Linked DNA regions of Homo sapiens: region 1 is linked to region 2. Evidence: fine-mapped expression QTL. A gene starts in region 2. The other region holds a variant in brackets. All regions are shown on one strand. Distances are from middle to middle.

Region 1 (2,908 bases), 38 kb after region 2:
CACTCCGCCCGCTTGCCTGCTGCTTGCCACCCAGAGCAGGAGGCAGCATGCCTGCCAGGGCACCCAGCCTGCAGGGACGGGCAGGCCCGCTGAGCCCTCCTTCCAGGACGTGGAAGTGTCAGAGACACAGCTCCCAATTAAGGGCCTGGGCAGCACCCAGAAACCCTGGACCTCTGCCAGCTGCAGACTCTTCCTAATCAGGGGAAAAGACCCCGAACCCAGGCAGGCTGACCCAGCATCCAGACCCAGCTCTGTCTCCCCAGCTCCTCCGCTGCTAATAACAGTAATAATAACAATGGCAGCGACCATTGCTGCAGAGGTTACTGTGTGCCAGGCACCATTCCCAGCGCCACCCGTCATTCTCAGTCACGGGAGATGGCTGCTGTTTTCCTCTCCATTTTGCCCTGAGGAAACTGAGACCCAGAGTGGTTAAGTCACTGGCCCAAGCCACACAGCCGGGAAGCAGCCCCTGAGGCTGGTTCCTGACTCCACTGCCTCTCGGCCCTGTGGGGTCAACCCTCTGTCCCCCTCTCCGCTATTGCCATCTTCACCCCCAGAGCTCCACACCCTCGGGTCCTACTGCTGACCTCAGACCCACAGGGCCCTGCCAGCCCCCAGGCCTCTGCCTGTGCTCTTCTTTCTGCCTGGAGTGCTCTTCCCGTGGCCGGCTCCCCACCCACTCCTCGGGCCTCAGTGGAAAAGCCCCCTCTTCACAAAGGCCAGCCCTGGTGGCCCATCTTCCCCCCGCATCAGGACCCCGTCTCGCCTTCCTGCTCACTCATTCATTGAATGCAACTGTACTGAGCATGCGCTGAGTGCCGTCTGGGCCAGGGATGAAACAGAGAATGAGGACAGCGCGGTCCCAGCTTTGGCAGACCTGACCTCCGGCACAGGGTGTGCGTTCTTGGGCACAGCTACCAGCATGGCCGGTGCTGTCATCTGACCTTCTCCTTTCCATCCTCCTTCTTAAATATTCATGAGCTCATGGGATCGTGCCTGAGATTAGCTGGTCTTCCCGTATGACCCTGGAGAATCACTGATCGTCGTCGTCACCCAAGTGAATCCTTGTTGCGCTGCCCCTAGGTCCCCCTCATCTTGGGCTCTCCCCACCCAGCATCTGCCATTTCCACCCTCAGGAAATCCCTCCTGCTCCTCAGTGGGAAGACAGAAGCACCAGAGTGGCTTCAAAGGTGAGTCCTCAACTGACAGAGCTTAGGGCCGGTGTGGCAGATGGCATGCC[C/G]TGAACTGGCTCCCATGCTTCCCAGAATGGCCGCTATCTGTGGAGTTCTGTGGAGCACAGGCCTAGTTTGAGCCCCTCAAGACCAAGTTTTGAGTCTCCTCATTTTACTGGTTTCTCTTTTCTGAACATTTTCCAACTTGGTGTTTCCATTAAGCTGTGGGGCTCAGAACGTGGTTTCATTGATCAATGACAAATCAAGCAGGACCATCACCTCCCACATTCTGTAGACTATGCCCTTATTAATGTGACCCAAGATTGCAATATAGAAAGATCATCATCCTCTTGCCTCTCCCACTGATCCTAGCTCTAAGGCAGTGGTTCTCCCCAGCCTACACAATGCAATCATTTGAGAATTTAAAAAATCCAGGATTATCATCTCTGGAGATGGTCTCAGGTGATTACGATGGGTAGCCAGAACCAAAAGATGGAGATGCTGCTGTCCCATGGCCTCCTAGTCCTCTGAGCCCCAGCCACTATCCCTAACTCCTTAAGTCCCTGGTCTCCAGGAGTTTAAGGGTGACAGTCGGCATTTATGCCAGCTGCTAACCATGGTTCCCAAAGTGTGTTCCAGGGAGCAGTAGTGCTGCAGAGTGCAAAGCTGCACATCTCTTTCCAACTCCACTGTTCAGAAGTATTACACTGGTAACGTGACATTGATCATGGTGGGAGTGTTCACGCCACAGATATTGGTGGACTGCAAAACAGGGCTTTCCACAGTGCCCCCCAAGGCTGGTGGTTGGTGGTGGTTGTTTTTTCTTGACATGGAGTCTCGCTCTGTCACCCAGGCTGGAGTGCAATGGCATGATCTCGGCTCACTGCAACCTCCACCTCTCACATTCAAGTGATTCTCCTGCCTCAGCCTCCTGAGTAGCTGGGATTACAGGTGCCTGCCACCACACCTGGCTAATTTTTGTATTTTTAGCAGAGGCAGGGTTTCACCGTGTTGACCAGGCTGGTCTCAAACTCCTGACCTCGTGATCCGCCCACCTCAGCCTCCCAGAGTGCTGGGATTACAGGCGTGAGCCACCACGCCCGGCCCCAAGACTGGTTGTTAAACATTTGTCAACACAGCACTGTCCTGACCACCCACTCCTCTCACCCTCTGGACTCTGTCACAGCCACCCATTGATCAAAAGCAACCAGAAGCCAGCTGGCCAAAGCGCGTAAGGGTGCAGAGCCTGGGGCTCAGCCTCCTGGAGCTCAGAGCAGGACAGAGGAGGTGGAAAATGGATGGGGGAAGCCAGTAGAAAATGATCAGCCTGCCCACACCTGCTCTCAGGGAGACATGACACGTGCAGTCAACATGTTCCTCTGCGTGAGGCAGACCTGCATGCCAGCACTGAGCCAGGCGACCACCTGGTAGCTGGATGATCCATCAAGGAGGCTCTGGTGCCCTGCTTATGTAATAGACCACGTCAGCCCCATGTACTAGAACCTCTTTTTAATTTTTTGGAATAGTGATAACATCTACTCAAAGAAAACGATGCTCCATTTTGATTGATTCATCTCTGACACATTCCTAGGCCAGGAGTCAGAAGCTCTCACACTTGAGCATACATCAGAACCCCTGGGTAGGGGGGAGGTTAAGAACATGATTGCAGCCGGGCACGGTGGCTCAGGCCTGTAATCCCAGCACTTTGGGAGGCCGAGGCGGGTGGATCACCTGAG
Region 2 (2,908 bases):
CTCGACAAGGCAAAGAGACAAACACCAGAGTTTGGACCCCACCAACTCCCTTAGCCAGCTGGCAATATGGTTTCACCACTTCTTAGAAAAGAGGAATGGAGAGGTGTCCTCAAAAGCCACCACTAGGCTTTCAGAATGTTTTGTGTGTCTGTGTCTTGGCAGAATGAGCCAAACGTACTTTCTTCGTGCCCCATAAGATGAGACACACCCAGCAAAGGCTGTCCTCATACAGAACTACCTCCAGGTGTCTTTTATACTGCAAGACCTGCACCAAAGGGTTCTACCTATAGAAATCCTAGCACCTAGACATAGTCAACCAAGTACATGGCTCCCTCACCCTCCAACCAAAGATGCCATATTTCCATCAGAGTGGAACAAAATCCCACTGTGTTCCTAATGCCTCCTGCAATTTTGCATGTGGGAGACATGGCTGGTATGTGACATTCTCTTCTACAGATTGTAATGGATTGGGGAAGGAGGGGGAACTAGAGTTCAGGCCTATCTTTCTAGAGGACAAAATAAATATGCCTTGATAACTGCAATTATCTGAAAACTATTTCAAAGAAAACTCTTTGTCTCATTCTGGCATTTGCTCAAGGGTATGGCTTTCCATCAGTCTCTCTGTCTCCATGTCTCTTTTACATACATATGTATGTGTATATGCGTGCGTATGTGTACATACATCCATACATATAGACATATTCTCTCTCTCTCCACACACACTCACACACCCCTCCAACCTCTGTGGCTCTGAGCGTCATGTGTGTAAGACACTGACGCGAATGGTGAGTGCCTAGGCAGGGGTCAAACAAAGGCTACCTACCATGCCAGAGGATTGCCACAAACACCTCTTAAGCAAGCATATTCCTTGGCTCCTCCCAGACACACTGAATCTGAATCTCTAGGATTCTGATTTCGGAGCCCAGGAATCCTCCGGTGCAGGAGTTCCCAGGTGACTCTGATGCACCGGGAGGCTGGAGGCGCTCGGATCTAGAGAGGAGGCGGCACTTGTGCAGTGCAGTCGGGAAAGAGAGGAGGGGCTGGGCCGGTGCCTTTAGGCGGTCAGGTGTTAGGACCGGAGTACAAGCCGCCAGCCGCGCGGGAGCAGGCCCCGAGGCAGCCCAGCCGCGGGGCAGTAACCTTTAGCCACACTTGGCCTCCGGCCGCCGCCAGAGCCGCTCCGCCCCCGCCGCCTCGCCCCCACCGCCCCGCCCTCCTATTGGCCGCGTCCCCAGCCGGGCTCGCGGCCTCGGCCAATGGGGCCGGCGCGCGCCGGAAGCCGGAAGCGCGGCAGCGGCGGCGGCGCTCCCCCTCGGCAGCTGTTGTGGGGCACCATGCGAGGCTTCGGGCCAGGCTTGACGGCCAGGCGTCTCCTCCCGCTGCGGTTGCCCCCGCGGCCGCCCGGGCCCCGGCTGGCGAGCGGGCAGGCGGCCGGCGCCCTGGAGCGGGCCATGGACGAGCTGCTGCGCCGCGCGGTGCCGCCGACGCCGGCCTACGAGCTGCGCGAGAAGACACCGGCGCCCGCCGAGGGTCAGTGCGCGGACTTCGTGAGCTTCTACGGTGGGCTGGCCGAGACGGCCCAGCGGGCCGAACTGCTGGGCCGCCTGGCGCGGGGCTTCGGCGTGGACCACGGCCAGGTGGCGGAGCAGAGCGCCGGCGTGCTCCATCTGCGCCAGCAGCAGCGGGAGGCGGCGGTGCTGCTGCAGGCCGAGGACCGGCTGCGCTACGCGCTGGTGCCGCGCTATCGCGGCCTCTTCCACCACATCAGCAAGCTGGACGGCGGCGTGCGCTTCCTGGTGCAGCTGCGGGCCGACCTGCTGGAGGCGCAGGCCCTCAAGCTGGTGGAGGGGCCGGACGTCCGGGTAAGGGGCCGCCGTCGATCCCCCGGCAGCGCGGACTGGCCGCCCTCCTCGAGTAGTCCTCACTTGCCCCCTCCAAGTCCCACACACCCCGCCTTCCCTGCCCGATAGCACGCTCACTTCGCCCGCAGTTACCGCCTGCCAACTGTGTCCCCTTCCCACGCTGTCTGAGTCCTGGCCTCGTCAGAGCACACCCCCGCCTTCCTCCAGTCTGTCCTTGAAGTCCTCACTTGTATAGTGTTTACTAAATACTCAGCACTTGGTGGTCTTTAAGGTAGCTGTCACCTCTCGTACCTGATTAGTGTGTGCTCTACAGTCTTTTGAAATTATTGTAGCTGAGAAGTGTTTCATCTATATGGTATACCTGAACTAGAGCATCAGGCAGCCTTCTGAGACCCTGGATGGTGTTTCAGAAGTTCACTGGGCACCCGCTATGTGTGAGACATTGTCCTGAGAAGTCCTGTGAAATGCACAAAGGTAAATAGGACTCAAGGTCACCACCACCACCCAGGAGTCTCCATGGCTTCTGGCCTTGTCTGTGCTCCATGACTTTTGGGAGGGCATTTAACTCCCTGCGTTCAGTACTTAATGTGATGATTCTGAGTTGACTTGAGGTAATCAGGCATTAGCACAGTTCATTCATGTTAAATGCAGACACATACTTTGAGATTTAAATGATTATGACCCGAAAGAAGGCCTAGAGCAACATATACTCTTCTTTTATACTGTTAGTATTAAATACGGCGAAAAACTAACCTGCCCTTTTTTTATTTTTATTTTTGTTGCCCAGACTGGAGTACAGTGGTGTTATCACGGCTCACTGCAGCCTCGACTTCCCCAGGCTCAAGCAATCTTCCCACCTCAGCCTCCTGAGTAGCTGGGACTACAGGTGCAGGCCACCATGCCCGGCTAATTTTTTTTTTTTTTTTTTTTTTTTGTAGAGAGGGCGTTTCACCATGTGGCCCAGGCTTAACCTGCCCTTTTAATGAACGAAAAATGACGTAAATGTTTCAGGAAGTTTTGGACATTCAGAAGTTTGTTATGTGCAG

Evidence for each region.
Region 1: its variant is fine-mapped to the expression of MLYCD in anterior cingulate cortex (GTEx, PIP 0.97).

The regions. Positions count from the first base shown.
Region 1 is chr16:83,935,995-83,938,902 of GRCh38, forward strand. No RefSeq gene overlaps it. Among named protein-coding and RNA genes, the nearest start is that of OSGIN1, 16 kb to the right of the region's middle. The variant C/G (reference allele first, on the strand shown) is at 1,241.
Region 2 is chr16:83,897,811-83,900,718 of GRCh38, forward strand. It overlaps MLYCD (malonyl-CoA decarboxylase), which reads left to right and starts at 1,305. Exons shown (of 5, transcript NM_012213.3): 1 at 1,305-1,862. The coding sequence starts at 1,335. RefSeq lists silencers at 1,075-1,504, 1,805-1,974.